Homo sapiens: one gene and its partners. The main gene of each other region encodes a partner of the protein of the gene in region 3 in a complex. Each region holds a gene or a part of one and is shown on either strand. Other genes may lie near its edges.

Evidence for each region.
Region 1: MYBL1 (region 3) and TFDP2 share a complex: the UniProt entries of both Homo sapiens proteins name them as parts of the DREAM complex.
Region 2: MYBL1 (region 3) and LIN54 share a complex: the UniProt entries of both Homo sapiens proteins name them as parts of the DREAM complex.

The regions. Positions count from the first base shown.
Region 1 is NC_000003.12:142,136,954-142,148,036, reverse strand, and holds part of TFDP2 (transcription factor Dp-2), read left to right. Parts: intron 1-11,083. UniProt on the Homo sapiens protein: Can stimulate E2F-dependent transcription.
Region 2 is NC_000004.12:82,929,055-82,940,137, forward strand, and holds part of LIN54 (protein lin-54 homolog), read right to left. Parts: intron 10,909-11,083; coding exon 10,835-10,908; intron 10,683-10,834; coding exon 10,485-10,682; intron 9,451-10,484; coding exon 9,359-9,450; intron 8,245-9,358; coding exon 8,173-8,244; intron 7,328-8,172; coding exon 7,225-7,327; intron 7,065-7,224; coding exon 6,927-7,064; intron 2,092-6,926; coding exon 1,889-2,091; intron 1-1,888. UniProt on the Homo sapiens protein: Component of the DREAM complex, a multiprotein complex that can both act as a transcription activator or repressor depending on the context. In G0 phase, the complex binds to more than 800 promoters and is required for repression of E2F target genes.
Region 3 is NC_000008.11:66,571,136-66,582,218, reverse strand, and holds part of MYBL1 (myb-related protein A), read left to right. Parts: intron 1-1,852; coding exon 1,853-2,086; intron 2,087-5,828; coding exon of another isoform or gene 5,829-5,843; coding exon 5,844-6,212; intron 6,213-8,712; coding exon 8,713-8,855; intron 8,856-9,622; coding exon 9,623-9,737; intron 9,738-11,083. UniProt on the Homo sapiens protein: Transcription factor that specifically recognizes the sequence 5'-YAAC[GT]G-3'.

The DNA of each region.
Region 1 (11,083 bases), on a different chromosome or scaffold from region 3:
TATATATTCATCTATTTTCTATATGGCATAATCATGTCCCTGTCTCTCTTTAAAAGTAGATATAAAAATAGTTTAATTGATCTATATTGCAGCTTCCTTTTCCATTTCATTGTTTAGCCTGTTATTTAGCTAAACTTTATCACTATCAGATTACTGTAATTAATCTTTAATGGCAGTGTCCATTCTCAGACAGCACCAGGAGAAAAATCAAATGCCTAGACCCCAGATTCTGTCACACTTGTGTACTGGCTCTGGATGTGTTTGTTATTTATTAGAACATCTTGTGCCTGTAACTAGTCTAGTCTAAGAGTAGACATGGTGTCTGTAGCGTTGTTCTGGCTGTGCAGTTGCAGTTTGAGCACTGTGGCCCTTACATTTGTTAATAAAAGGTTCAAGACTTACTAAACTCTTACTTTTCAGTTCTCTTCATTTCTAGGTGTTTAAAAAGGAAAGCTGAATTTTTGCAGTGTGTAATACTTCATATTCTCATTTTGTGATCATGTAATTCCTCCCACCCTGACTCTTGTGAATGTGTAGTCCAAGTGGCACATGGAAGTTTTTCTCTGGCAGCTAAAATTCTTAACTGTCTGAGCCGTGTGCCCTCAATATAACTGATGAAGTGGGATGTACTTCCTTGTCATCATCTTTTAAACTCTTATTGCAATATGTGTTATAATGGATCTCAGAAGAAACTAGAAGGCATAGATTGAGAGTTCTTTTAGATCATAGAATTTTAAATTGTAGTGGATTTTAAAGAGAATCAAATACACTCACCTCTTCATACTTAAATCCTTTCCGTTTTAATCTGGGATACATGACTCTAGGTGTGCGGCATGAATAGATATGAAAGTAGGCTTGTGAACTCTTGGAAATATTATGCAAAATTATGCATATTTGTATATTTTTTGGAGAGACTATTTATAGTGTCATAGTTTCTGAGGCAAAGATATTTGATCAATTCTTTTTTTTTTTTTTTTTGAGACAGGGTTTCTCTATGTTGCTCAGGCTTGTCTGGAACTCCTGGGCTCAAGTGATCCTCCCACCTCACCCTCCCAAGTAGCTGGGGTTATAGGCACACACCTCGCCATGTTTGGACAACTCTAATTTTTATAAAATTATTTCTTTCACTGAACTAGAAATTGTGTCCTCACTGTCTCTTCTGTATTGTGGGTTTTCAACTATTTGAAGATACTTATATTCCACTGAGTGTTAGAAAATATTCTCAGTCTTTAACCTCTGCTAGTGACTTTTGTGTCATTGTTTTCATTCACATCTCCTCACAGAACTCATAGCCCACTTGTGGATTTGTTTAGTTCATCCACATTCTTCTGACAAGCATGGTACCCCAAATTAGGTATTAACTAGTATAGAAGACTAAGTTACCTCTCTAATTTTAAAGCATGTACTTTAAGAGTAGACTTGCTTCTTTGGCAACCACATTACACTGTTACTTTATAATAATTTACTAGTTAAGAAGATTAACTTTGGGGCTAACCTTCCTGTGTTTAGATCCTAGCTCTGCAGTTTATCAGCTGGGTAACCCTGAGTAAGTTATGTAAACACTCTGGGCCTAAGTCTCCTCATCTCTAATATGGGGTTAATAATAGTGTCTATCTTACACAATTCTGAAGATAATTAATATATATATATAAGTCATTTAGAATGGGTTGTGGCATCCCAGTACTATGTATGTATGATACCTATTTTACTATTGGTTTCCTTGTCAACTAAAATTGTTGAATTATTTTGTTCATGCTCTCTCTGTTCTTAAAGTCATACTCTCTCAATTCTTTAATAGAATATTTTTTGGTAGGACTTTACATGTATCTATATTTTTATTTTGTAAGATTGCTTCTAGTCTGTTGACATTAAAAAAATCCTGATTTGGTCATCCAATAAATATCAAATCTATGCATTTGATAAACATACAAGTTTGATAATTTTGGCATTGCTTTCATGCAAATTTTTCACTAAAATGCTGTCTAGGCAGGGCTGAGGTCAGAGTTCTTTACCTGCTAAAGACCTCTCTTAAAGGTGATAAAAAATTTTATTATTAATTCTTTGGTTCAGGTTGGTCACCCAATTAGAAATTCAGCTAATTTTAATCATCATCTACCTCATATGTTTCCAAGTTCTCATAAGGAATATGTGAGGAACTTTGACAGTTGCCTTACTAAAACCCAGATTTTATATGCTTCGTTTTCTTTACCCTATCATTACTTGTCCTTAGTGAAACTATACTATATTCCAGTAGCATATGTTAATTACTACTTTTTTGTCTTTTTTTTCGGAAAAGGATTATTTATTTATTTATTTATTTATTTAGAGACAGAGTCTCTCTCTGTCACCCAGGCTGGAGTGCAGTGGCCTCCTGGATTCAAGCAATTCTCCTTCTCCAGCCTCCCGAGTTGCTGGGTCTGCAGGCGCTTGCCACCATACCCGGCTGATTTTTGTATGAGAAAAGGATTTTTTAATTCAAGTAAAAATGTGGAATGCTTTAAGAATTTGTGTGTCATCATTGCACAGGGGCCATGCTAATCTCTGATTTGTTCCCGTTTAGTATATGTGCTACTAAGGGAGCACTGATTACTACTTTTTCTAAGTGTTCACAAACTTCTCTTAGTAATGATGCTAGAATCATGTCTAAAATTACATCTAACTTCAGTGATCAATAGTTGGCAGGATCCCATTTCTCTTTTTTTGAACACGAGTACTACATTTTTCTGTCTTTAGTCTTCTGGCAACCTCTCCTGCTCACCATAGTTCCTAAATGATTGCCAACAGCTGTGTGGAATTTTATTTGGAGCAATATACCTTGTTGAAGGTTTACTTAGAGTAGTTAGGAACTGTCTTTTATCTTCATGTTCATATTGAGCTTTCATTTCCTCCAGTTCATTGATAAATTTATTAAATGCCCATTTTGCACAAGATATCAATGCTTGTTTTACTTGAGCCATCGGAAGAGAATTTTTCTTAATAAAAATGCCTGAAGCAAAAAGGTAATGTACATCTATTTCTCTCCATTCCTCCTATTGTTAATATTACCGTAGTCTGCCACCATTCCTTCTTTAGTGTACTGCAGTAATAGCTTCCTGTTAACCTTCCTTCTTCCAGTCCTTTTCTGTCTCTGGTCCTTATGTATGGCAGCCAAAGTTATCTTTGTTTTAAAAATGCATGTATGTTTTAAAAGTCGTTTCTGGGAGGTGCAGTGACTCACGCCTATAATCCCAGTGCTTTGGGAGGCCGAGGTGGGCGGATTGCTGAGCCCAGGAGCTCAAGACCAGCCTGGGCAACATGGTGAAACCTGTCTCTACTAAAAATACAAAAAGTAGTCAGGCTTGGTGGCATGTGCCTATAGTCCCAGGTACTCAGGAGGCTGAGGTGGGAGGATCTCTTGAGCCCAGGAAGTCAAGGCTGCATTGAGCTGTGATCGTGCCACTGCACTCCAGCCTGGGCAACAGAGTGAGACCCTATCTCTAAATAAATAAATAAATAAATAGGAATAAATAAATAACTAAGTATTTTCTTTCCTAGTGGCATAAGCTGTAATCTAATTAGAATTTGATTTCTGAGCATAGTACTTTCCAACTCCCTTTTTCTGTTTCCTCTTTACTGTCCTTTTAAATTCAAACCCCTCCACCCCTGCTGCCCCGCTTTTTTTTTTTTTGAGACAGAGCCTTGCTCTATTGCCCAGGCTGGCAGTGGTGCAATCTCGGCTCACTGCAACCTCCACCTCCTGGGTTCAAGTGATTCTTGTGCCTCAACCTCCCAAGTAGCTGGGATTATAGGCATGTGCCACCACACCTGGCTAATTTTTGTATTTTTAATAGAGACAGGGTTTTGCCATTTTGGCCAGGATGGTCTTGAACTCCTAACCTCAAGCAATCCACCTCTCTTGGCCTCCCAAAGTGCTGGGATTACAGATGTGAGCCATCGTGCCTGGCCATAGATCTCATTCTTTTTTATGGCCAAATAGTACTTCATTGTATGTATGTACCACATTTTCTTTATTCATTCATCTGTTAACGAACACTTAGGTTGCTTCCAAATCTTAGCTATTGTAAACAGTGCTGCAACAAACATAGGAATGCAGATATCTCTTCAATATACTGATTTCCTTTCTTTTGGCTATATACCCAGCAGTGGGATTGCTGGATCATATGGTAGCTCAATTTTTAGTGTTTTGAGGAACGTCCAAATTGTTCTCTGTAGTGGTTGTACTAATTTACGTTCCCATCAACAGTTTGAGAAGGTTCCCTTCTCTGCACATCCCCACCAGTATTTGTTACTGTCTGTCTTTTGGATATAAGCCATTTTAACTGGGGTGAAATGATAGCTCATTGTAGTTTTGATATGCATTTCTTCGATGATCAGCAATGTTGAGCACCTTTTCGAATGACTATTTGCCATTTGTATGTCTTCTATTGAGAAATGTCTATTCAGATCTTTTGCTCATTTTTTAATGGGATTATTTGATTTTTTTCCTAGAGTTGCTTGAGCTCTTTATATATTCTGGTTATAAATCTCTTGTCAGATAGGTAGTTTGCAAATGTTTTCTCCCATTCTTTGGGTTGTCTCTTCACTTTGTTGATTGTATCCTTTGCTGTGCAGAAACTTTTTACTTGATGTGATCCCATTTGTTTATTTTTGCTTTGGTTGCCTGTGCTTGTGGGGTACTGCTCAAGAAATTCTTGCCCAGACCAATGTCCTGGAGATTTTCCCCAATATTTTCTTCTAGTAGTTTCACAGTTTAAGGTCTTAGATTTAAGTCTTTAATCCATTTTGATTTGATTTTTTTTTTTAGACAGGGTCTTGCTCTGTTGCCCAGGCTGGAGTGCAGTGGCTTGATACCAGCTCACTGCAACCTCAGCCTCCCAGGTTCAAGCAGTTCTTGTGCCTCAGCCACCCAAGTAGCTGGGACTACAGGCATGTGCCACCATGCCTGGCTAATTTTTGTATTTTTAGTAGAGATGGGGTTTCACCATGTTGGCCAGACTGGTCTTGAACTCCTGACCTCAAGTGATCTGCTCGCCTTGGCCTCCCAAAGTGCTGGGATTACAGGCGTGAGCCACCTTGCCCAGGCTGATTTGATTTTTGTGTATGGCAAGTGATATGGGTCTGGTTTTTTTCTTCTGCATTTGCATATCCAGTTTTCCCAGCACCATCTATTGAAGAGACTGTCTTTTCCCCAGTGTGTGTTCTTGGCATCTTTGTGGAAAATGAGTTAACTGTAGGTGTGTGGATTTGTTTCTGGATTCTCTGTTCTGTCCATTGGTCTGTGTGTCTGTTTTTATTCCAGTCCCATGCTGTTTTGGTTACTATAGCTCTGTAGTATAATTGAAGTCAGGTAATGTGATTCCTCCAGTTTTGTTCTTTTTGCTCAAGATAGCTTTGGCTATTCTGGGTCTTTTGTGGTTCCATATAAATCTTAGGATGGTTTTTTCTATTTCTGTGAAGCATGTCATTGCCATTTTGATAGGGATTGCCTTGAATCTGTAGATTGCTTTGATAGCAGTATTGACATTTTAACAATATTGATTCTTTCAATCCATGAACATGGAATATTTTTCCATTTTTTTGGTGTCCTCTTCAATTTCTTTGATCAGTGTTTTATAGTTTTCATTACAGAGATCTTTCACTTCTTTGGTTATTACCTAGTTATTCAATTTTATGTGTGGCTGTTGTAAATGGAGTTACTTTTAAAATTTCTTTTTCACATTGTTCACTGTTGGCATATGGAAATGCTACTGATTTTTGTATGTTGATTTTGTATCATGTAACTTTACTGAATTTGTTTATCACTTCTATTAATAATACTTTTCTTGTGGAGTCTTTAGGTTTTTCCAAATATAAAATTGCATCATCTGCAAACAGGGATAATTTGACTTCTTCCTTTCCAATTTGGGTGCCCTTTATATCTTTCTGTTGTCTGATTGCTCTAGATAGGACTTCCAGTACTTTGTTGAATAACAGTAGTGACAGTGGGCATGCTTGTCATGTTTCAGATCTTTGAGGAAAGGCTTTCTAGTTTTTCCCCATTCAGTATGATACTAGCTGTGGGTCTGTCATATATGGCTTTTATTATGTTGGGGTGTGTTCCTTCTATCCCCAGTTTTTTGAGTATCTTAACTTCTTTGCAACATAAATATTTTATTTAAGACCTATATGTCCTTTTGCAACATATTTCATGCTCTTTTGACTTTTTTTTTTTCTTGAGACAGAGTCTTGCTCTGTCACCCAGGCTGGAGTGCAGTGGCATGATATCGGCTCACTGCAACCTCCGACTCCCGGGTTCAAGTGATTCTTGTGCCTCAGCCTCCCAAGTAGCTGGGATAACAGGTATGTGCCACCATGCCTGGCTAATATTTGTATTTTTAATAGAGACAGGGTTTTGCCATGTTAGCCAGGCTAGTCTTGAACTCCTGGCCTCAACTGATCTGCTGCCTCAGCCTCCCAAAGTGCTGGATTACAAACTTAACCCACCACACCTGGCCTATGTTCTTTTGACTTTAAAAGAAATTAAATAGATCTTCGTTCAAGATGGCCGAATAGGAACAGCTCCAGTCTGCAGCTCCCAGCGTGATTGATGCAGAAGATGGGTGATTTCTGCATTTCCAACTGAGGTACCTGGTTCATCTCATTGGGACTGGTTGGACCGTGGGTGCAGCCCACAGAGGGTGAGCCGAAGCAGGGAAGGGCGTCACTTCACCCAGGAAGCACAAGGGATCAGAAGATTTCCCTTTCCTAGTCAAGGGAAGCCGTGACAGACTGTACCTGGAAAAATGGGACGCTCTCGTCCAAATACTGGACTTTCCCCATGGTCTTAGCAACTGGCAGACCAGGAGATTCTCTCCCGTGCCTGGCTTGGCGGGCCCCACATCCGTGGAGCCTTGCTCACTGCTAGCGAAGTAGTCTGAGATGGACCTGTGAGGCTGCAGCCGGGTTGGGGGAGGGGTGTCCGCCATTGCTGAGGCTTGAGTAGGTAAACAAAGCGGCCAGGAAGCTCAAACTGGGCGGAGCCTACCTCAGCTCAGCAAGGCCTACTGCCTCTATAGACTCCACCTCTGTGGGCAGGGCATAGCAGAACAAAAGGCAGCAGAAACTTCTGCAGACTTAAACATCTCTGACAGCAGTGGTTCTCCCAGCATGGTGTTTGAGCTCTGAGAATGGACAGTCAGCCTCCTCAAGGGGTCCCTGACACCCGTGTAGCCTAACTGGGAGACACCTCCCAGTAGGGGGCGACAGACACCTCATACAGGTGGGTGCCCCCCTGGGACGAAGCTTCCAGAGGAAGGATCAGGCAGCAATAATTGCTGTTCTGAAATATTTGCTGTTCTGCAGCCTCTGCTGCTGATACCCAGGCAAACGGGGTCTGGAGTGGACCTCCAGCAAACTCCAACAGACCTGCAGCTGAAGGACCTGACTGTTAGAAGGAAAACTAACAAACAGAAAGGAATAGCATCAACATCAACAAAAAGGACATCCACACCAAAACCCCATCTGTAGGTCACCAACATCAAAGACCAAAGGTAGATAAAACCACAAAGATGGGGAGAAACCAGAGCAGAAAAGCTGAGAATTCTAAAAACCAGAGTGCCTCTTCTCCTCCAAAGGATTGCAGCTCCTCGTCAGCAACGGCATAAAGCTGGACGGAGAATGACTTTGATGAGTTGACAGAAGCAGGCTTCAGAAGGTTGGTAATAACAAACTTCTCTGAGCTAAAGAAGCATGTTCTAACCCATCGCAAGGAAGCTAAAAACCTTGAAAAAAGGTTATGGCTAACTAGAATAAACAGTGTAGAGGAGACCTTAAATGACCTGATGGAGCTGAAAACCATGGCATGAGAACTTCGTGAGGCATGCACAAGCTTCAAAGGCCGATTTGATCAAGTGGAAGAAAGGATATCAGTGATTAAAGATCAAATTAATGAAATAAAGCGAGAAGACAAGTTTAGCGAAAAAAGAGTAAAAAGAAATGAACAAAGCCTCCAGGAAATATGGGACTATGTGAAAAGACCAAATCTGTGTTTGATTGGTGTACCTGAAAGTGACGGGGACAATGGAACCAAGTTGGAAAACACTCTTCAGGGTATTATCCAGGAGAACTTCCCCAACCTAGCAAGGTAGGCCAACATTGAAATTCAGGAAATACAGAGAACACCACAAAGATACTCCTGAGAAGAGCAACCCCAAGATACATAACTGTCAGATTCACCAACGTTGAAATGAAAGAAAAAGTGTTAAGGACAGCCAGAGAGAAACATCAGGTTACCCAAAAAGGGAAGCCCATCAGACTAACAGCGGATCTCTCGGCAGAAACCCTACAAGCCAGAAGAGAGTGGGGGCCATTATTCAACATTCTTAAAGAAAATAATTTTCAACCCAGAATCTCATATCCAGCCAAACTAAGCTTCATAAGTGAAGGAGAAATAAAATCCTTTATAGACAGACAAATGCTGAGAGATTTTTTCACCACCAGGCCTGCCTTACAAGAACTCCTGAAGGAAGTGCTAAACGTAGAAAGGAACAATCGGTACCAGCCACTGCAAAAACATGCCAAATTTTAAAGACCATGAATGCTATGAAGAAACTGTATCAATTAACAGGCAAAATAACCAGCTAACATCATAATGACAGGATCAAATCCACACATAACAATATTAACCTTAAATGTAAATGGGCTAAATGCCCCCAATTAAAAGACACAGACTGGCAAATTGGATAAAGAGTCAAGACCCATCAGTGTGCTATATTCAGGAGACCCATCTCACATGCAGAGACACACATGGGCTCAAAATAAAGGGATGGTGGAAGATCTACCAAGCAGATGGAAAGCAAAAAAAAGCAGGGGTTGCAATCCTAGTCTCTGATAAAACAGACTTTAAACCAACAAAGATCAAAAGAGACAAAGAAGGCCATTACGCAGTGGTACAGGGATCAATTCAACAAGAAGAGCTAACTATCCTAAATGTATATGCACCCAATATAGGAGCACCCAGATTCATAAAGCAAGTCCTTAGAGACCTACAAAGAGACTTAGACTCCCACACAATAATAATGAGAGACTTTAACATCCCAATGTCAATATTAGATCAACGAGACAGAAGACTAACAAAGATATCCAGGACTTGAACTCAGTTCTGCACCAAGTGGACCTAGTAGACATCTACAGAACTCTCCACCCCGAATCAACAGAATATACATTCTTCTCAGCACCATATCACACTTATTCTAAAATTGACCACATAATTGGAAGTAAAGCACTCCTCAGCAAATGTAGAATAACAGAAATCACAACAAATTGTCTCTCAGACCACAGTGCAATCAAATTAGAACTCAGGATTAAGAAACTCACTCAAAACCTCACAATTACGTGGAAACTGAACAACCTCCTCCTGAATGACTACTGGGTACATAATGAAATGAAGGCAGAAATAAAGATGTTCTTTGAAACCAATGAGAACAAAGACACAATGTACCAGAATCTCTGGGACACATTTAAAGCAGTGTAGAGGGAAATTTATAGCACTAAATGCCCACAAGAGAAAGCAGGAAAGATCTAAAATTGACACCCTAACATCACAATTAAAAGAACTAGAGAAGCAAGAGCAAACACATTCAAAAGCTAGCGGAAGGCAAGAAATAACTAAGATCAGAGCAGAACTGAAGGAGATAGAGACACAAAAAACTCTTCAAAAAATCAATGAATCCAGGAGTTGGTTTTTTTGAAAAGATCAACAAAATTGATAGACCGCTAGCAAGACTAATAAAGAGGAGAGAAGAATCAAGTAGATGCAATAAAAAATGATAAAGGGGATATCACCACCAATCCCACAGAAATACAAACTACCATCAGAGAATACTATAAACACCTCTACGCAAATAAACTAGAAAATCTAGGAGAAATGGATAAATTCCTGGACACATACACCCTCCCAAGACTAAACCAGGAAGAAGTTGAATCTCTGAATAGACCAATATCAGGCTCTGAAATTGAGGCAATAATTAATAGCCTACCAACCAAAAAAATTCCAGGACCAGACAGATTCACAGCCAAATTCTACCAGAGGTACAAAGAGGAGCTGGTACCATTCCTTCTGAAACTATTCTAATCAATAGAAAAGGAAGGAATCCTCCCTAACTCATTTTATGAGGCCAGCATCATCCTGATACCAAAGCCTGGCAGAGACAGAAAAAGAGAATTTTATACCAATATCCCTGTTGAACATTGATACGAAAATCCTCAGTAAAATACTGGCAAATCCAATCCAGCAGCACATGAAAAAGCTTATCCAACACAGTCAAGTCGGCTTCATCCCTAGGATGCAAGGCTGGTTCAACATATGCAAATCAATAAAAGTAATCCATCACATAAACAGATCCAACGACAAAAACCACATGATTATGTCAATAGATGCAGAAAAGGCCTTTGACAAAATTCAACAGCCCTTCATGCTAAAAACTCTCAATAAACTAGGTATTGATGGAATGTATCTCAAAATAATAGCTATTTATGACAAACCCACAGCCAATATCATACTGAATGGGCAAAAACTGGAAGCATTCCCTTTGAAAACCAGCACAAGACAAGGATGCCCTCTCTCACCACTTCTATTCAACATAGTGTTGGAAGTTCTGGCCAGGGCAGTCAGGCAAGAGAAAGAAATAAAGGGTATTCAGTTAGGAAAAGAGGAAGTCAAATTGTCCCTGTTTGCAGATGATATGATTGTACATTTAGAAAACCCCATCGTCTCAGCCCAAAACCTCCTTAAGCTGATAAGCAACTTCAGCAAAGTCTCAGGATACAAAATCAATGTGCAGAAATCACAAGCATTCCTACACACCAATAACAGACAGAGAGCCAAATCACGAGTGAACTCCCAATCACTATTGGTACAAAGAGAGTAAAATACCTAGGAATCCAACTTACAAGGGATGTGAAGGACCTCTTCAAAGAGAACTATAAACTGCTCAAGGAAATAAAAGAGGACACAAACAAATGGAAGAACATTCTATGCTCATGGATAGGAAGAATCAATATTGTGAAAATGGTTATATTGCCCAAAGTAATTTATAGATTTGAT
Region 2 (11,083 bases), on a different chromosome or scaffold from region 3:
AGAAGTATACTAAATAATGAAGTCTGAAATTAAAGCTCACTATGGCAAGAGAGGGTAATTGAGAATTCAGGCTGCCATGCAGCTGTATAGGAATCTTTAACATACAAACAAGCACTTTAAACTAGAAAATATTAATTTAAGGTTTTGGTCACTTGAAACAAGCTTGTTAACATGCTAGCATAACTTTTTTTATACAAGTTTTTAATATGTAATTTTGATTATAATTATAATTTTATAATTTTGTTTTCATATTGTTAACATCTTCCCAATTTTAAAAATTAATTATAAATATTTTACTGTAGCAGTATCTTTAATCTCCATGTGGAGATTAGATTCAATACTCTAAAGACCAGAAAGAATCCCAGGTTATAAGTCTTATTAAGGTGCCTGACCACTTCCACTTTATTCAGTCAAAAACCATTTGCTGTTTATATTCCAGTCAAGAGTTCTTTAGAACTAATATCTTAAGGCCAGGCATGGTAGCTCATGCCTGTAATCCCAGCACTTTGGGAGACTGAGATGGGCAGATCACCTGAGGTCAGGCGTTCAAGACCAGGCTGGCCAACATAGTGAGACCTCATCTCTACCAAAAATACATAAATTTAGCTGGGCGTCGTGGTGTATGCCTGTAATCCCAGCTACTTAGGAGGCTGAGGCAGGAGAATTGCTTAAACCCAGGAGGCGGAGATTGCAGTGAGCTGAGATCATGACACTGCACACCAGCCTGGGCAACAGAGTGAGACTCTATCTCAAAAAGAAAACAAAACAAAAAACCAAAACTAATATCTTAAATATTTTGTACAAAAAAGCCTTATTTTTATAAGCACTGGATCTCATTTTCAGTTTAGGCATTTTATTTTTGAGACGGAGTTTGCTCTTGTTGCCCAAGCTGGAGTGCAATTGCGTGATCTTGGCTCACTGCAACCTCTGCCTCCCAGGCTCAAGCGATTCTCCTGCGTCAGCCTCCCAAGTAGCTGGGATTACAGGCGCACACCACCATGCCCAGCTAATTTTTTGTATTTTTAGTAGAGATGGGGTTTCACCATGTTGGCCAGGCTAGTCTCAAACTCCTGACCTCAGGTGATCTGCCCACCTTGGCCTCCCAAAGTGCTGGGATTATAGGCGTGAGCCACTGTGCCTGGCCTACTTAGGCATTTTAAATAATATGCCATTTGCAAGGCTCATTCCATTTAATAATTCCTCAGATTAACCTCTAACAAACTTTCTAATACCAGTCCAGTCCAGTCCAAATCACAAACTATGTTTTATCAGGTCTTGACAAACACTGGAGATATTATAGACATGCCTTATTCCTCACAGCCACCTGGTATAGGCTATTTTAAGGATAAGAAAACTGAGGCTCAAAGAGATTCACAAACTACTAAGTAGCACAGATAGTATAAACTCAAGTCTACCTGACTTTAGAGGTCAGGCTTTTCTACTCCAGAGCTCAGCAGATGAAAGAGATAACAATACGGAGCTGCACTATTACAGTGTGATGGGTGGTCCAATAGGATGGGAAAAGTGCTCCAAGAAATGGAAAAGGCAAGAGAAGGTAGGAAAATGCAAAAACATAATTACACGTTCAGCGAGACATATGAACATCTGCTTTTCTTTGGGGTTCCTCAAATTACATAATTACCTCATCTTAGTAGACAGAAATTAAGCACAGTGGACTAAATCATTACTGTGCATTTTCGAACTGCACAATAATCTGACAGTGGTTTCTGTTACCTTTAAATTCCTTTACAAGTAACTAAAGATGGAAAGAAAACACAAAAATCAGGTTTGCAACAACCAAAAATATAAACTCAACTTTGCCCCCTGAAAAGAAACTTTACCAAAAGTATTTGGGAAGTACTATAAAAAGATTAAAATACTGACTTACTTTCCGCCTCCACTATTTAAAGCTGGTGTTGGCCTAGTAAGCAAGTCTGAAATTTGAGAGGATAACTTCGTCTTGGCTGCTGTTTGTTGCTGTACCCTTACTTCAGCTGCATCTGCCAAATGCATCAATGTCTTCCTTTCCGGGCTTTCTTCAAAATTCTTACAGCCAATACATTTGCATATTGAGGAACACATTATTTTTGCCTAAAAGATTTACATAAGAAAAGTTTCCAAATCAAAACCAAAATACATTACTATAAGTAGATGCCACAATCAAATCAACAGCTAATAGCATTACCTGGTCAACTGATAATAAGATTAGATGGAAGTATCTCTGGCTGACAAACAGTAACTACACATGTGGCTAGCTAGGTTAGGTATTCTTAAGTCTGACAGTGGCTGTACAACGTTTGTGGCTGTGTCCTTCCATGTCAGTTTTCCCCCACTATGAATATAGATTTTCTTCAGATATGAGTTACACATGTTTTTCATAAACATGAATGATATCCTAAAATATCAAAAATAAAGGTCATCCAGAATCCAGCCACCTCAATCAAATCATCATTAACATATAGATGACCTCCCATTTATGCATATGTATACAATTTCACATTAAAGGGATTTCACAGATGCCATTTTTATTATTCTATTATGCTATTTTTAATCTGAAGAGGGAGTTCGGGAGGGACTTCAGATTCCCCAAACCCTTCAATAACCCATATGAAACTAGTGTGTATTTTACATTTCATATAAATATATATTTTCATGTAAAAATATGTCAAATGTAAGTATATATAAAATCCTAGACCTTATGTATATACAAATATAGAACTTTCATTTTTTAGTTTTTCAAAATCATATTATCTGCTTTTCTGCATCTTGCTTTTCTTACAACTCATGGAATCCCTCCAAAGTCATCTGGCATAGCTTGAATTCATTCTATTTAACAGCTAGGTGTAAATCCCTGGTATGATGTGTCAATTTTATTGGGCATTCATTTCCCTATTGATGGGTGTTTATTTTTGTTTCCAGTTCTTGGGTACCACAAATGATGCATAAAAAGACTTTTTTGTTATACATTATGCCTTTTTATTTCTCTGAGTTAGATTTCTAGAATTGGGCTCACTGGTTAACAGGTCTGTGTATTTTAATTTTTTTTTTTTTTTTTTTTGAGATGGAGTCTCGCTCTGTCTCCCAGGCTGGAGTGCAGTGGCGCGATCTCAGCTCACTGCAAGCTCCGCCTCCCAGGTTCACGCCATTCTCTTGCCTCAGCCTCCCGAGTAGCTGGGACTACAGGCACCCGCCACCACGCCCGGCTAATTTTTTTTGTATTTTTAGTAGAGACGGGGTTTCACCGTGTTAGCCAGGATGGTCCCGACCTCCTGACCTCGTGATTCACCCGCCTCGGCCTCCCAAAGTGCTGGGATTACAGATGTGAGCCACCGCGCCTGGCCTGTGTATTTGAATTTTAAGAGATGTAGCCAGATTGCTTTTTCAAAAGGCTGTAATACCTCACATCTCATCAGCAATGTGTAAAGGAAGGCTTTCCCACATTCCCTCCAACAATGAATATTATAATTCCTTTTAACATTTTATGCCAGGCGCGGTGGCTCACGCCTGAAATCCCAGCACTTTGGGAGGCCGAGGTGGGAGGATCACCTGAGGTCCGGAGTTCAAGACCAGCCTGACCAACATGGAGAAACCCCATCTCTCTTTAAAAAAAAAAAAAAAAAATTAGCCAGGCATGGTGGCACATGCCTGTAATCTCAGCTACTCGAGAGGCTGAGGCAGGAGAATCGCTTGAACCCGGGAGGCGGAGGTTGCAGTGAGCCGCGATCACGCGATTGCACTCCAGCCTAGGCAATAAGAATGAAACACCATCTCAAAAAAATATATATATATATAATCTGATGGTGGGGATGATAAAGTGAGATTTCACTGTTCTTTAATGTATATTTCCCTGATTTCTAACGAATTTGAGTATGTTTTTGTTAGCTGTGTTTTCTTCAATGAACCCATGTCTATATAAATAAATAAAACTGTCCTTTCTCTCTATAGCACCTAGCAAGATAAACGGGCTGCATTATAAACACATTTACTCTGCTCCTTTCTTATAAGACACCAATAAATTCCACTTACCAAAGGAAAAAATGGATGTAAGTTTGTGTTAACTGGGTTACTGTGAGCCTGAATGGGAATCTAACTAAAGCAATACTTAATAAGCATCTAGTGATGACGAGAGAAAATTCCTGACCTCAGAGTGGGGAAAACATACCAATAATGGTAATTTAGATTTTATATATATATATATATTTGTTTTTTAAAAATTATCTTTATATTTTAAGAACCATAGGAAAGACATTAATAGTGTCTAACCGGAGCTCAGATGGAGAAATTACAATGACATTTAGCTTGGCGAATTTAACTTCCCCTATACCAAAAAAAAAAAAGATGTGGAGGGGAGGAAAATGGTCACAAGAAAAGACACAGCCATGAAATAAGGTGGGTAGCCATTCATCCAATCAACAAGCCTATAGGCATTGAAAGGACACATGAATGTGTTGTCCAGATGCAAACCAACAGGATTAAAAAGCCAATTCAGCTGAAGAACAAGGTGTCAAAAGAACAGTTCAACACAAAATGTCAGATAAGCCCACAGCTAATTTACAGCCAACTAGCCACTGCTATTCATAGTTTAGTATATTCTAAGTTTCTCCATTTTTTGGTACATAACTTTTGGAATGATAAATTTGTTACTAGACAGTGTATCTGTCCCGACAAAATTTCATTAGAATAGGTAGGGTAGGGCTGTCTCTTCTAACACTTTTAAACCAGTCCAGTACCTTTTCTACTTCTATTAATTCACAGGTTGTTAACCAGTTCAATTAAATGGTTAGTTCCTATATGTCTGAATTTCATATGCCCAGCATGTATTGATTTTTCAATGCCATATACATGAAAGGGTCGCTTTACCCTTCTGATCCAACTTTACATAAATTTCCATGTTCTGAAAAGAAGTGTTAATTTTTACATATTCGTGACAATTTTTGTATGATATGGCTTCTAAACGCAAGCCGGCTATTTCATCAGGTATTCAAAAGAAGAAAGACTAAAAAAGATTCCAACACTGGATGAAAACTGGCTTGTTGGATTTTGAGATGTTAAGACAGTTTAAAAAATCAACTTGCGACGGTGGCTCATGCCTGTAATCCCAACATTTTGGGAGGCTGATGGGTGGGCGGATCACTTGAGTTTGAGAGCAACCGGGCCAACGTGGTGAAACCCTGTCTCTACTAAAAACAAAAAATACAAAAATTACCTGGGCATGGTGGCAGGTGCCTGTAATCCCACCTACTTGGGAAGCTGAGGCAGGAGAATCGCTTGAACCCAGGAGACGGATATTACAGTGAGCCAAGATCGCACCACTGCACTCCAGCCTGGGCGACAGGGCGAGACTCCGTCTCAAAAACAAAATAACAACAACAACAACAACAAAAAACTTGTCTCTTTATGCAATTTTCATTCATATCATCTGCAGAACTCACAAGATGTTACTCTCCTATTCCCTATTCTACTTTACTTCCTGAGAGGAGTATTTGACTTTGTAAATAAGTAGATTAGGAAAGAATTCATTACACAGAGAATGCAATACACAAAATCTTTCATATGACACATGCTGTATGGGAGAGGGCACTGAACTGGAGGACATGCTCCTGTGGCAGGGCAAACCTTCAGCAAGTGCAAAGCTAGGCTTTCTGCCAATAAATAAATAAACTAATTAATTAATTAATTCTCTGAGAATAAGAAAGAATGAAAATATATGAGAGTATGAGAAGAGCCAAGAAGAGGAATAACTCAACCACCCAAAAGACTGTCAGTAAAGAGTTTCAGGCATACCAAGAAACCAATTATGGTAATCTAGGGTTAATCTCAATCACTAGATTGTTACACATAAGCTTCTAAAATAAAACTATATAGTACTGTGTCTAAAGCAAGAAGGGGAAGATTTATATGGCATTTGTCAGAGCAGAGTTTCAACTACATCTTCCAGAGAAGACGCCTGACCCATAAGTAAAAATAACCAGCTCAGTGGAACAACAAAACAGTGAAAATGGAGACAATTGCCTACCGTGACCAGTAACCTCATCCAGCAGAATGCCAGATCCCCCTTTCCTATTTTTATGCTCACAAAGCAAACTTAACATACTTTGGTTTTCCGCAGAGCAGTGTGCTCTTTGAGTGGGCATAACCAGCATTTTGGTCAAGATAATCCTTTAATTTCCAGACTGTACCTTGGGATGCAGGCTATTTTGTATCCATATATATATATATATTTATATATTTATAATATATATTTATATATTTGAGACAGAGTCTTGCTCTGTTGCCCAAGCTGGAGTGCAGTGCCATGATCTCGGCTCACTGCAATCTCCACCTCCTGGGTTCAAGCGATTCTCGTGCCTCAGCCTCCCGAGTAGCTGGGATTACAGGCACCTGCCACCATGCCCGGCTAATTTTTGTATTTTAGTACAGACGGGGTTTCACCATGTTGACCAGGCAGGTCTCGAACTCCTGACCTCAAGTGATCTGCCCGCCTCTGCCTCCCAAAGTGCTGGGATTACAGGTGTGAGCCACCGCACCCGGCCATATATTTCTAAGAAGCCTGTGAAGAACAGTAAGTAGAACTGCACCTCAGGTGAGAATCACTGCTGGAGAGTTTCCAATCCACTTTGATATTATTTTTATTGAAAATCAATATATTGGTGTTCTGATCTGCATACTTTCTGAGCATAATGACCAAGAAGTTATGGTAAATCACCCAGTAAGACCCCAAGCTGTAATAATAAACCCAAGGTATTCCTCCGAAGCCCTGCTACAGAGGCTCGAAGGCCTTCCTAAAACAAGGGCCTTTGCACCAACTGTGCATATTTTCAAATTGCAATAGCAAGGTGATTTCCCAATTTTCAAGTAAATTTTTGTAGTAGGTCCTTTCTAAAACTGTTTTTAAAAGATATTATTTTCCGCACCCAGCATCTCACCTCATAGCATTCACAGTAGTTTTTAAGACATCCTGATCGTTTGCAATTACACCCTTTGCTATGACGTCGATCAGATTCTCCCTCCTTTCCTTTCCCTATCTTAGGCTTAAAGGCTTCTGGATTTCTGTCAAGGCATGCCTAGCAAAACAGATCAAATATCAGTTAGAGTTAAATCACAGTAGATGAAATTTAAACACTGCAAAAGGAATTGATAACGTTTCTTTGCAAGACAATTGAGTTTTATAAAACTGATGAAACTGGATATTTCTGTCAGTTAAATGAAATAAAAAATAATCACCTTTATTGCTTTTTGCCTTTCATTTTCATGTTCCAAATTGTTGTAACAATTAGTACAATTGCAGTTGTTGCAAAATTCACCATTTGCAAAGCAATCACAATACCTGAAAGGTAAAAGTCAGTATAAGGTAAAAAGTCATTATTAAGGAAAACTAATTATCTGATTATGCATACATTGTATATATATTGTACACATACTACATATGTGGTAAAGCATCTCAGAAATCTACTCAGCTACCCAGTTAAAGAGTTAACAACACATATTGTCAACCACATACTAAGGCTCAAAGTTTAAATCACCAAGTACTAGAAATGTGGCCTAAAAACTTAGTCCAACCAATAACAGCTGTCACACAAGAGCTGTCACACATATAAATTATATAAATTATATGTCACACATATAAATTTTATGTGCCCCCAAAGTAAGGCATTTCAAAATTCTGAAAAAGGAAAAACACTAGCTATATTCTAATAGTTGAACTGGCTCATCTGAGTTATAGTAATAGTACTTTGGATTCTATGCCCCAATAAGACCAATGCTTTTCATTTAACTATTTCATGTCAAGTCTTTTTAATGCTAATAAGCAAATTAACCATTCAGTGACTTTTAAAACTACCTAGAGTATCATCACTTAGGAGACCAAATACAAAAGTCATAAATAAGATCAAACATTATTATTAAGGGCAGAAGCTATGTCTGTCTCATGCTGCTATGTCCCTAACCCCTACTCCAGTGATTCATGTATGGTAAGGACTCTAAATATTTCTTTCTAGATGAATGAAATAATATTTTTACACTGCCATATATGTTCAAACATTCATTTGTATGTTTATTTAAATTACTTAGACTTATGAGCTTTGGTCTGCTAAAAATTTTTAGTTAACTCCATTTACTTTTAAGTGCATTTCTAATTACATTAAATAAGCAAACAGTTGCAAAAACACTTACAATTTCAAACACAGTGATTTTGTACAATTACAGGGCTTTCGGGGCCGACTGGCCGACTCTGATGGGATTATGCTGTACAGATAGAAAAAAAGATATACATTTAATCAATTAATAGTAACTAAAATTAATTTAGTTGCTACAACTAATTTAAAATTTAAAAAATTAGACCTAAAACTAATTTAAAATTAGAGAAGTCTCCAATCTATAAATCCCTCCAGAAATAAAGCTTTAACCAATGTTAAATGTGTCCATCTAAAATAAAAAGTTTGCTACGTTGTTCTATTTACACTAGGTTCAAAGGCAAGTTGTAACATGAAAGAGGTAGAGACAAGTATGGAATAATTTTTTTAAAAGAAGTTATCAATAGCTGCTAAAGAACACTCCACAAACACTGTCCCTTCTAAGAAAACAAAAGTTGAGATTGCCTCAAAACTCTTGGGATTCAATTATAAAAAGCAGTGAGGAAAAGGAGTGTGTGGAGGAGGAAATGGAAGTGGGATGTGGACTGATTCCGGGTAATTAAGCACGGCTTCTAAGCTGATATTGCAAAAGCCAGTAATTAATAGATAAACAAATAAACATCAACAAAAAATGAGGACCTCACATAATTTTAAAAATAGTTGGGCAGGTGCAGTGGCTTAAGCCTGGAATCCCAGCACTCTGGGAGACTGAGCCAGGAGGATCACTTGAGCCCAGGAGGTGGAGATTAGCCTGGGCAATATAGTGAGACCGCATCTCTACAAAAAAATTTAAAAATTAGGAGAGCATGGTGGCATGTGCATAGAGTTCCAGCTACTCAGGAGGCTGAGGCAGGAGGATTGCTTGAGCCTGGGAGGTTGCAGTGAGCTGAGATCACAGCACTGCACTCCAGCCTGGGCAACAGAGCAAGACCTTGTCTTGAAAAATAAAGATAAAAAATAGTTAGCATCATCATTTTGGAAACATACTCAGAATGAAAGAGAATAATAAAACTAGTGTAGTGAAATTGGTGAATCTGAATAGAGTATTTGGGAATTGACTATTTCTGTAATTTTTCTGTTTGAAATATTTCAACAAGTATTTTAGAGGCATGCTCACATGGCTTTAAGGGGAAAAAAATAAAAGAGGATGTAGTTTGGAATATATATATTTACTGTTGCATTTAAGCTGATCTAACAACTTATGTACCTATTTTCAAAATACTCACCCATTGAATGGAAGCCGTGCCTGGGTCTGGATACCAGATGTTCCAGTAAAGGTAGAGTTGCTTGCTATTGATACATATGAAGACTGCTGTAGCTACATGTAAAGAAAATTAATTTTAGATCATATTTCCAAAAATGGACAATACTGTCAGGTATGATGATCAGTAAGAAATACAAATTCATCCATTAAGATAAGAAAAACACAATGGAGAATATCACACAAACACATACTTCACAGAGCTCTTTTAAAGACTCAAACCAATACTATAGGTGAAAATAATGTGAACATTTTACAGTACTACATAGTACAAATATAAAGAAAGTATTTCACAGAAGAGTTAAGTATGTCGGAATGATAGGAAATGCTAGATGAATGCTCTCAAAGTACTGTAATAACTTGTTTGGGCTAGAAAAATGCAATGTGCCTACTTACAAATAAAATAGGTACTATACTGATCATTTATCACACTACAAATTACAGAGAATGAGAAGTTACATGCACAATAGTTGAGTTTCTATTTTACACCAACTTCTAAACATTAGAAATGCTTATGACAAAAATACTGAACATTATTCTTTTTATCAATAGCCACATAACATGTTCCAAAGTGTATTTCATTAAAAAGTACACGTGTGGGTTTGTTTCCCCGTCTTTCATTCTAAAGATGACCAGTAAGAGTAGATAGATCGCTGAAGATATGTCACCTGGAAATGCATCTCACAGTTTATTTTCCAATAAATAAACTTGGGCTTATTTTCCAAGTCAGTGGCATCAAATTTATGTGTGAGGAAGAGCTTTATAACAGCCACAGTCTTTTCTAAATTCATTTGGACTCTGCTGATTTTAACTTCAGTCTATTTTCTATCATATCGCCACAGGCTTGCGCTCCTGCCAAGCTGCTCTCAGCTCCAAATTGTCTGACTTGTATATCTGACCTGTGTTATATATTTCTAAATGCTAAAAGTACATAGAAATAAACTTAAAGGTTTGGGTTAACATTTTAAGATTTTGGAAAGTGCCACTTCAATACTGAGTTAGATGTGTTTGAGTAGCTTCTGTGATAGCACTAGACATCTTGGACCCCATTATCACTTTTGCAATACAATGACTTCATTTTTTCCACATACCTGAGTAACATACTGAGCTGGAAGCACTGCATAACCCACATTCCCTGTTCCCGGAGCTGGTGCCAGGACAGTGCCTGGTGGCAGGTTAGTGAGGTTGGGCTGGATCTGTGGCAGTGGTGTGGCAGGCATGATAAGCCGTTGCTGTGGCTGGCTAGTAGTTACTATTTGTGAAGTTGGATTGATTGGTTTTGGAACAACCTAAAAAGAAGGGACATATATCAATGACCACAAAATAAATTTTACAGCTGTTCAATTCAGTATAAATCTCTTGCACCTAAATCTTAACTTTCTATTTAAAAAGTAAATCGTCTATTTGGGAAAGACTGAGAAAGAAGTTATGTGATACTTACTTGTTTGACAGCCTGAGCTGAGACAATTGGAACTGACATCCGCACTGGGGTTGTATTAACAACCACTGGCTTTGCTTTTTAAAAAACAAAAGAAGGATGAACAAGTTATTTACAGAAAATAGTATTTAAAACACTTAAGAATACTTAGCTCTCCCAAGTTATTCTCATAAAAGAGCTTAAAGAATTCCATTTGATTCCTAATTTGAGCAATCTTTAATCAGGATAGTTACCTTTCAAAATTGCTTACCC
Region 3 (11,083 bases):
CTTAATCTGTTTACATTCAGGGTTATTACTGATATGTGAAGACTTACTCTTTTCATTTTGTTAATTATTTTCTGTTTTTGTGTATTCTTTGTTCCTTTCTTCCTCTCTTAATGTTTATTATTGCAGTTTGGTGGTTTTCTGTAGTACAGTGGTTTGATTATTTTATCTTTCTCCTTTGTGTACCTGCTCTACTAGTGAATTTTATACTTTTACATATTTTCATAATAGTGTCTGTTATCTTTTTGCTTTCAGGTATAGGACTTTTTTGAGCACTTCTTGTAAGGCTGATCTAGTGGTGATGAATTCCCACCATTTAAAAAGAAAAAGTCTGGGAAAGACTTTATTTCTCCCTCATTTCTGAAGGATAGCTTTGCTGGGTATTCTTGGCAGGCATTTTTCTTTTTTCAGTGCTTCTCAAATATATCATTTCATTCTCTTCTGGCCTGTAAGATTTTTTCAAATAAATCTGCTGTTATCTAATAAAGATTTCCATATATGGGATGTAATACTTTTACTTTGCAGTTTTTATTTTTAATTTTCTTTTGATAAGGGTCTCACTCTGTCAGCCAGGCTGGAGTGTGGTGGTGTGATCACAGTTTGCTGCAGCCTTGACTTCCTGGGTTCAAGTGATGCCCTCACCTCAGCCTCTCGAGTTCTGGGACTACAGGCGCATGGTACCATGCCCAGCTAATTTTTGTATTTTTTGTAGAGATGGGGTTTCGTTATGTTGGCCAAACTGTTCTCAAACTCCTGGGCTCAAGCAATCTGCCTGCCTTGACTTCCCAAAGTGCTGGGACTATGTGCGTGAGCCACCGTACCTGTTCTCTCTTGCTATTTTTAGAATTCTGTCTTTGAATTTTGACAATTTGTAAGTCACAAAGTTTATGGTAACATACAGGAGAGGTGCTTGATTTAGATTGTTGTCATCAGGGAAGGGTTCCTAGAAGTCCTAAGTGAACTCAGCCTTGAAGGACAATGATTATATATTAGCAAGATAAATGAATTAGGACATTATTATAAATGAAGCAGATAAAAGTGTATAATCAGATGAAGTACTTTCCAGTATTTGAACTGTGTCTTAAGAATAGCTTCCCTTTGGGAGGCTGAGGTGGGCGGATCACCTGAGGTCAGGAGTTTGAGACCAGCCTGGCCAACATGGTGAAACCCTGTCTCTACTAAAAATACAAAAAATTAACCGGGTGTGGTGATGGGTACCTGTAATCCCAGCTACCCGGGAGGCTGAGGCAGGAGAATTGCTTGAACCCAGGAGGTGGAAGTTGCAGTGAGCCGAGAGAGCACCGCTGTACCCCAGCCTGGGCAACTGAGTGAAAACTCCAATCTCAGAAAAAAAAAAAAAAAAGAAGAGCTTCCCTGGTCAGTAGGTTACAGAGCATTTTATTAATAGATAGAGGGAGCAGCAATATGTGCAAAGGCACTCCAGGTCAAAAGAGTATATAATTCACTGGGGAATTGCAAGTGCTATAGTTGGGTATTTCTGATAACTACCAGGAATAAATAGATACACATGATAAGGTTTAAATATATAGCTCTTGAGTAGAAGTGTTGAGAAATGAAGTTTGGAAGGAAGGGAGTAGCCAGATTCTAAGAGTTTGGACTTTATGTTGTATGTAAATGCTTGTTTTATCTCATCATGATTGTATAGATTAAAAATTTTAATTAGAAAAAAGAAACATAGTCAAAGCATGAAGTTTAATGAAAAAAGTATACCAATTTTGAGGAAAGACAAAATATTTGCTACTATGTTTTTAGCCTAATTGAAATGTGTTGAAATCTGAATTTATGCCTACATTGAGAATGACAAATAATATTCAAATTTCTTTTGTACCTTTAGCAGCCTGGAAGTTTTTCTAGCTGGTCTGGTAGTTTCCTCATGGATGATAACATGTCTAATACTCTAAATAGCCTTGACGAGCACACTAGTGAGTTTTACAGTATGGATGAAAATCAGCCTGTGTCTGCTCAGCAGAATTCACCCACAAAGTTCCTGGCCGTGGAGGCAAACGCTGTGTTATCCTCTTTGCAGACCATCCCAGAATTTGCAGAGACTCTAGAACTTATTGAATCTGTAAGTAAAAAATTGTAAGATTATCAAAAGTTCAATTTTAGTTATATGATTTCATGCTCAGAAACTCAGTTTTGGACATTGACCAGTTTTATGTTTTGTATGCCATGCTTAATTTTGTTCTGATATTTTGCAGTGGCTTCTAGGGGAAAAAAGTTTAAATTTTTCTCAAGTATGTGCCTTGTGAGGAATTTTTAAAAATTAAAAACTTAATTCATTTTTTATTATATAAGTTATACAAGTGCATTAGAGAAAGCTGGAAACTAGAGAAAACTATAAAAAAGAAAATTAAAGTCCTTCATAAACCCAGAGTTAATAATTTGATGTATTCCTTTCAGTCTGTGTTCTATACTCAGAAAACATTATATTTTTAAACCCAAAAATACACTTCTGTATTATATTTGTGGATTTTTTTTTGTTTTCCACCCTGTCATGAGCATGTTTCTGTTTCCTTTTTTAAACTTGATTTTTTTTTTTTTAAGATGGCATCTCACTCTGTCGCCCAGGCTGGAGTGTAGTGGTGCAATCTCAGTTCACTGCAACCTGTGCCTCCTGGGTTCAAGCGATTCTCCTGCCTCAGCCTTCTGAGTAGCTGGGATTACAGGTGCCTGCCACCACACCCAGCTAATTTTTATATTTTTAGTGGAGATGGGGTTTCATCATGTTGGCCAGGCTGGTCTTGAACTCCTGACCTCAAGTGATCCTCCCACCTCGGCCTCCCAAAGTGCTGGGATTACAGGCATGAGCCACCATGCCTGGCCTAAATTTGAATTTTAGGGGCTTTGTAGTATTCCATCAAATGAATATAAGAAAATATATTTACCCAACTATTATTATTGGACATTTAGGTAGTGTCTACTTTTTCATTTTTTTAAAAAAAATTTTTTTTTAATTTTTTTATTATTATTATACTTTAAGTTTTAGGGTACATGTGCACAATATGCAGGTTAGTTACATATGTATACGTGTGCCATGCTGGTGTGCTGCACCCATTAACTCGTCATTTAGCATTAGGTATATCTCCTAATGCTATCCCTCCCCACTCCCCCCATCCCACAACAGTCCCCAGAGTGTGATGTTCCCCTTCCTGTGTCCATATGTTCTCATTGTTCAATTCCCATTTATGAGTGAGAACATGCAGTGTTTGGTTTTCTGTCCTTGCGATAGTTTACTGAGAATGATGATTTCCAATTTCATCCATGTCCCTACAAAGGACATGAACTCATCCTTTTTTATGGCTGCATAGTATTCCATGGTATATATGTGCCACATTTTCTTAATCCAGTCTATCATTGTTGGACATTTGGGTTGGTTCCAAGTCTTTGCTATTGTGAATAGTGCCTCAATAAACATATGTGTGCATGTGTCTTTATAGCAGCATGATTTATAGTCCTTTGGGTATATACCCAGTAATGGGATGGCTGGGTCAAATGGTATTTCTATTCTAGATCCCTGAGGAATCGCCACACTGACTTCCGCAATAGTTGAACTAGTTTACAGTCCCACCAACAGTGTAAAAGTGTTCCTATTTCTCCACATCCTCTCCAGCACCTGTTGTTTCCTGACTTTTTAATGATTGCCATTCTAACTGGTGTGAGATGGTATCTCATTGTGGTTTTGATTTGCATTTCTCTGATGGCCAGTGATGATGAGCATTTTTTCAAGTGTCTTTTGGCTGCATAAATGTCTTCTTTTGAGAAGTGTCTGTTGATATCCTTTGCCCACTTTTTGATAGGGTTGTTTGTTTTTTTCTTGTAAATTTGTTTGAGTTCATTGTAGATTCTGGATATTAGCCCTTTGTCAGATGAGTAGGTTGCGAAAATTTTCTCCCATTTTGTAGGTTGCCTGTTCACTCTGATGGTAGTTTCTTTTGCTGTGCAGAAGCTCTTTAGTTTAATTAGATCCCATTTGTCAATTTTGTCTTTTGTTGCCATTGCTTTTGGTGTTTTAGACATGAAGTCCTTGTCCATGCCTATGTCCTGAATGGTAATGCCTAGGTTTTCTTCTCGGGTTTTTATGGTTTTAGGTCTAACGTTTAAGTCTTTAATCCATCTTGAATTAATTTTTGTATAAGGTGTAAGGAAGGGATCCAGTTTCAGCTTTCTGCATATGGCTAGCCAGTTTTCCCAGCACCATTTATTAAATAGGGAATCCTTTCCCCATTGCTTGTTTTTCTCATGTTTGTCAAAGATCAGATAGTTGTAGATAACGCGGCATTATTTCTGAGGGCTCTGTTCTGTTCCATTGATCTATATCTCTGTTTTGGTACCAGTACCATGCTGTTTTGGTTACTGTAGCCTTGTAGTATAGTTTGAAATCAGGTAGCATGATGCCTCCAGCTTTGTTCTTTTGGCTTAGGATTGACTTGGTGATGTGGGCTCTTTTTTGGTTCCATATGAACTTTAAAGTAGTTTTTTCCAATTCTGTGAAGAAAGTCATTGGTAGCTTGATGGGGATGGCACTGAATCTATAAATTACCTTGGGCAGTATGGCCATTTTCACGATATTGATTCTTCCTACCCATGAGCATGGAATGTTCTTCCATTTGTTTGTATCCTCTTTTATTTCATTGAGCAGTAGTTTGTAGTTCTCCTTGAAGAGGTCCTTCACGTCCCTTGTAAGCTGGATTCCTAAGTATTTTATTCTCTTTGAAGCAATTGTGAATGGGAGTTCACTCATGATTTGGCTCTCTGTTTGTCTGTTATTGGTGTATAAGAATGCTTGTGATTTTTGTACATTGATTTTGTATCCTGAGACTTTGCTGAAGTTGCTTATCAGCTTAAGGAGATTTTGGGCTGAGACAATGGGGTTTTCTAGATATACAATCATGTCATCTGCAAACAGGGACAATTTGACTTCCTCTTTTCCTAATTGAATACCCTTTATTTCCTTCTCCTGCCTGATTGCCCTGGCCAGAACTTCCAACACTATGTTGAATAGGAGTGGTGAGAGAGGGCATCCCTGTCTTGTGCCAGTTTTCAAAGGGAATGCTTCCAGTTTTCGCCCATTCAGTATGATATTGGCTGTGGGTTTGTCATAGATAGCTCTTATTATTTTGAGATACGTCCCATCAATACCTAATTTATTGAGAGTTTTTAGCATGAAGGGTTGTTGAATTTTGTCAAAGGCCTTTTCCGCATCTATTGAGATAATCATGTGGTTTTTGTCTTTGGTTTTGTTTATATGCTGGATTACATTTATTGATTTGCGTATATTGAACCAGCCTTGCATCCCAGGGATGAAGCCTGCTTGATCATGGTGGATAAGCTTAGTGTCTACTTTTTCAGTACTACAGATAACATATAAAGCTTTGTGCAAAATCATGATTATGTCTTTAGGTTAAATTGAATTTCTGGATCAAAGTATATCACCATTTTTAACACGTTCCATACACATTACCAAATGATTATGCAGAATTTGATGGTGTCTTCCTGATGTGCAGTAGAATGTGAAGTTTTATGACGAAATATACTTTTTGATAATAACTTAATTTTTGATAATAACTTATCATTTGTTCTTAAAGTACTTTGACAGTAAGCTTCAACTACTGAATTAGATGAACTATTATGTATTTTGGAATCATAGGAAAGCCATAATCTGTTCCTCTTAAATGGTCTTGCTTAAAAAAAATGTCCAAGGAAAGCATTTTTACTGATAAAATGAGTTGTTAATTAACTCTGTGGAAATCATCATCCTGTGTTCAAGAGCAGATTTAACTAGGTTACAGCATTAACTTTATTAACAGTTTAATTTATTGCAGGATCCTGTAGCATGGAGTGACGTTACCAGTTTTGATATTTCTGATGCTGCTGCTTCTCCTATCAAATCCACCCCAGTTAAATTAATGAGAATTCAGCACAATGAAGGAGCCATGGAATGCCAATTTAACGTCAGTCTTGTACTTGAAGGGAAAAAAAACACTTGTAATGGTGGCAACAGTGAAGCTGTTCCTTTAACATCCCCAAATATAGCCAAGTTTAGCACTCCACCAGCCATCCTCAGAAAGAAGAGAAAAATGCGAGTGGGTCATTCCCCAGGCAGCGAACTTAGGGATGGCTCATTGAACGATGGTGGTAATATGGCGCTAAAACATACACCACTGAAAACACTACCATTTTCTCCTTCACAGGTAGTGGTGTTCATTTTGTTTATGTTTCTAAATGTCAATGAGTTACATTAAATTAGATCTTTAACATCCTTACTAGCAGTTGGTAGCTTTGATAACATATAAAAATAATGTGTTTAAATGTATACTTGAGAATACTGAACTCTGAGAGAATAGAAAGTATCTCACAAAATGTAGTAGCTGCAAATATTTATTTATTTATTTATTTATTTATATTTTGGAGACAGGGACTCACTTTGTTGCCGAGGTTGGAGTGCAGTGGCACAAACACGGCTCACCGCAACCTCAACCACCGAGGCTCAAGTGATCTTCCCGCCTCAGCCCCCCAAGTAGCCTGGACTATAGATGCGTGCCACCACACCTAGCTAATTTTTGTATTTTTTGTAGAGATGGGGTTTTACCATGTTGCCCAAGCTGGTCTTGAACTCCTGAGCTCAAGTAATCCACCTGCCTTGGCTCCCAAAGTGTTGGGATTACAGGCGTGAGCCACTGCTCCCGGTTCTACATGATATTATACTACAGTTTTTAGAGGGACATTTTCTTTATCTTGTAGTCCCATATCTTTATAGAACTCATCAGAAAACAAGCCCGGAAAGGTAACATTGATTTGCCCAAAGTTATCTAATGCAAGGCTGAGACTAAGATCCGGTTTCCTGACTGACTACTGTTCGATAGATATACCTGATAAAGATTAAAGTGGCCTTACCTATTTAGAGTAATTTGTTTAGTTTGCCCACTGAGGTTTTTCCTTTTAATGTTCTTTGGAAGAAACTTAGATAATTGCTTACTGTAAGAATTTAATGTGTCAAGAGGTTTCCTAAGGATGTCTAGAACTACCTACTTACTTTCTCCTCTTGTAATATCCCTGGACAGTAGATGTTTATGTTAGGACAGTTTCCTATTGAACACTTGCTATGCTCCAGGCTGTTTGCCAAACGCTTTTTTTTTTTTCTTTGAGATGGAGTTTTGCTCTTGTTGCCCAGGCTGGGGTGCAATGGCACCATCTCGGCTCACCGCAACCTCCGCCTCCCGGGTTCAAGTGATTCTCCTGGCTCAGCCTCCCGAGTAGCTGGGATTACAGGCATGTGCCACCACGCCCGGCTAATTTTGTATTTTTAGTAAAGACAGAGTTTCTCCATGTTGGTCAGGCTGGTCTTGAACTCCCAACCTTAGGTGATCTGCCCGCCTCGGCCTCCCAAAGTGCTGGGATTACAGGCGTGAGCCACTGCTCCCAGCCTCCAAACAATCTTCTTATAGCATCTCAGTTAATGCTCTTTCAAAAGGAGTTAGGTGGAATAAAATTCTGAAGTTGAGCCACTTGTCAAAGGCAACAGTTAGTAAGAGATGAAGCTGATGTTTTCTGAAAGTGTTTGGCAGAGGCTACAAAGTTTAAGGAGGAAGAAGGGAGTTTAATGGTCAAACAAACATGGAGAATGCTGGGATATTATTGGAGGTATATTTTGAGGCTGGGGAGATAAGCAGGATCTGGCAGAACACAGATCTCTAAAAATTGTGCACCCATGCTTCAGGGGATGCCATTTCTGTAGACTACAATGTGAATAGTCTGTTCACTCCCAGCCCTGCTCTCAGAGTTAAAAAGCACTGGAGAAAGTGAAGTAGGCTTGGGCATACTAGCAGTTTTCTATTCTGGAGTTTTGCATGCTAGCAATTTTTGTTGAAGTGTGAATTCTAAGGTAGAAGTGGCTGAAAGATGCTTATTTCCCATGGCAAACTGCTTGGATTTTATCGTGTAAAAGAGGGTTTGATTACTAATCTTAGGGTAAAATAAATTCAAGTATTCAGAGCCAGAAGTGACAGAGCTAGACTTCATTCTAGTTATAAGTAGCTTTGAAGCCATTTCTATGGCTTCATATCACTGTTTCTAATCTTTTGACTGCAAAAATAAATTAGTATTTCACAATTGTAAATTATATAATTTAGAAAATGGACTCTGTTATGCCAGTTTTGACTGCTTAGAGGTTCTGTTCTGTGTTCTAGATAGGCAAATTTGCCAGACAGCTGTATTTCTTATCAGCAAAGCATTATTATTATATTCTAAATTAAAATACTCTCATAGAAAAAGCCACTTAAGGTCATTTATTAATAAGAGCTAAAAAACTTGTTTTTTCAGTTACACACTGTTGTACAAAACTGTTACATTTAACACAGCAGCTGTTTATGGTTTCTATAGATCTCTATTTGATAATATACTGTTTTTTAAATTTTTAGTATTTTTTTTGTAACTTTTGAATATTTGTTAAATGTTTCTTGAATTCCTATATGTGCTAAACACTGTTCTAAGAGCTGGGGAGACAAAAATGAACAAACCAGACAAAAATTCCTACCCTCATGGAGCATAATTTCCATGGAGTATAAGTGTAATATTATTCATAAGCTTTTTTTAAGAGGTATGAAGAAATAATTTGAAAATCTTATCAGTTTAATATTTGTGTAGGGATTTTGATGTTCTAGAAGTCGTCTTTAAACTCTCTTCCCTTTCTAGTTTTTCAACACATGTCCTGGTAATGAACAACTTAATATAGAAAATCCTTCATTTACATCAACCCCTATTTGTGGGCAGAAAGCTCTCATTACAACTCCTCTTCATAAGGAAACAACTCCCAAAGATCAAAAGGAAAATGTAGGGTAAGTAGGTATTAAATAATTGTGTTAGAGAAAATGGGGAGCACAGTGTTAAAGTAGATTAGCTTTTTGTGCATATAAATAGCAAGTATCATAATTCCTATTCCTACAGGACTTAGAATTTTTTTTGTTTTGTTTTGTTTTGTTTGTTTGAGATGGAATTTTGCTCTCGTTGCCCAGGCTGGAATGCAATGGTGAGATCTCGGCTCACTGCAACCTCTGCCTCCCGGGTTCAAGTGATTCTCCTGCCTCAGCCACCCGAGTAGCTGGGATTACAGGCATGTGCCACCATGCCTGGTTAATATTGTGTATGTAGTAGAGATGGGGTTTCACTATGTTGGCCAGGCTGGTCTTGGACTTCTGACCTCAGGTGATCTGCCCATCTCAGCCTCCCAAAGTGCTGGGATTATAGGTGTGAGCCACTGTGGCCGGCCAGAATTTTTTTTTTAAATCATAACCTTATGTTTTCTCCTTAGGACAGTGAAAACCAACTGAAATATAGTGTCAAACTTTGATTTCAATCATTTCTAGTACTTTTTCAAACATTTCTAGTACTTTTTTCTATATTAATTCTTTTTTTCTATTTTAAGATGATTGATTGAAATCAGAATTACCATAGGTGGGCATACTTTAAAATAGTCTTAGAATGTTTAAATGAAGCATATATATATGTGTAAGAAAATTTAGCGTGTGCTTAAATTGCTTTGCTTTCATTAACTTGTATGAAATCAGATCGTGACTATAACATAAATATCTAAATGACTGGATAGGTTTAGAACACCTACTATTAGAAGATCTATACTGGGTACCACACCAAGAACTCCTACTCCTTTTAAGAATGCGCTTGCTGCTCAGGAGAAAAAATATGGACCTCTTAAAATTGTGGTATGTATATTCATTTTATTTTTAATAATTTTCCTAATTTTAATAAAACACAAATTATGATTTTTATCACTTTGATTTTTAACATTTAAAAAAAGATATTTACTGAAACAGATACAAAGCTTTATCTTTTGATTTTCAAGGTTTTTTTTTTGTTTTTTTTTTGAGACGGAGTCTTACTTTGTCGCCCAGGCTAGAGTGAAGTGGCGCGATCTCAGCTCACTGTAACCTCCACCCCCTGGGTTCAAGTGATCCTCATGCCTCAGCCTCCTTAGTAGCTGGTATTACAGGTGCCCGCCACCACACCCAGCTAATTTTTGTATTTTTAGTAGAGATGGGGTTTCACCACATTGGCCAGCCTGGTCTTGAACTCCTGACCTCAGGTGATCCACCCCCCTCCCCCCCACCTCGGCCTCCCAAAGTGCTAGGATTACAAGCGTGAGCCACCACACCTGGCCTAATTTTCAAGTTTGAATTTGTGTTCACCTTTTTCTTTAACTTGTAAATAAACCCTTGCTTGGCTTGTTTTGAATTCTTAACTTTATAGCATCTAGAGAAAACATCAGGTGTCAGTGGAACTCTTTTCCTTTTTCCTTTTTTTTTTTTTTGAGACGCAGTCTTGCTCTGTCACCAGGATGGAGTGCAGTGGCTCATTCTTGGCTCACTGCAACCTCCGCCTCCTGGGTTCAGGTGATTCTCCCCCAGCCTCCTGAGTAGCTTGGACTACAGGCTTGCGCCACCACGCCCAGCTAATTTTTGTATTTTTAGTAGAAATGGGGTTTCACCATGTTGGCCAGGATGGTCTCGATCTCCTGACCTCGTGATCCACCCACCTTCGGCCTCCCAAAGTGCTGGGATTACAGGAGTGAGCCACTGCGCCCTGTCGGAACACTTTTCTTAATACTGAAATATACATTTTAGTAGTTTCAGTCATGGTTACATGTATTAGAATAAAATAATTTTAATATTTTGATATACTGAAGCACTTTCATGATAATATTTAGGAAACTAATCAGGGTACCTCTTTAGGAAACTAATTAGGAAAAGGCTCAGTTTCCTTTTCTATGCAAAGGAGATCATAAAACACACCCCAAATTGTTATTGTGAAGCTGAAAGAGATGATGTAATTAAAGGGGCTTGTCTGAGTTTCAAGTACTGTGTGCTTGGTTGCTGCTATTATTCTAATAATAGTATTTGTGGTAGTAGTTCACGAATGAATAGGACTGGGAAGTGTTCTAGTTACTGTGCTTTCATATATCTTACCACCTTTGAAATACCTTGGAACAGTGATGGGCATTTTAGGCAGATACAGATTTCTGACAAGTTCTTTAGAAATACGATTTTTAAAA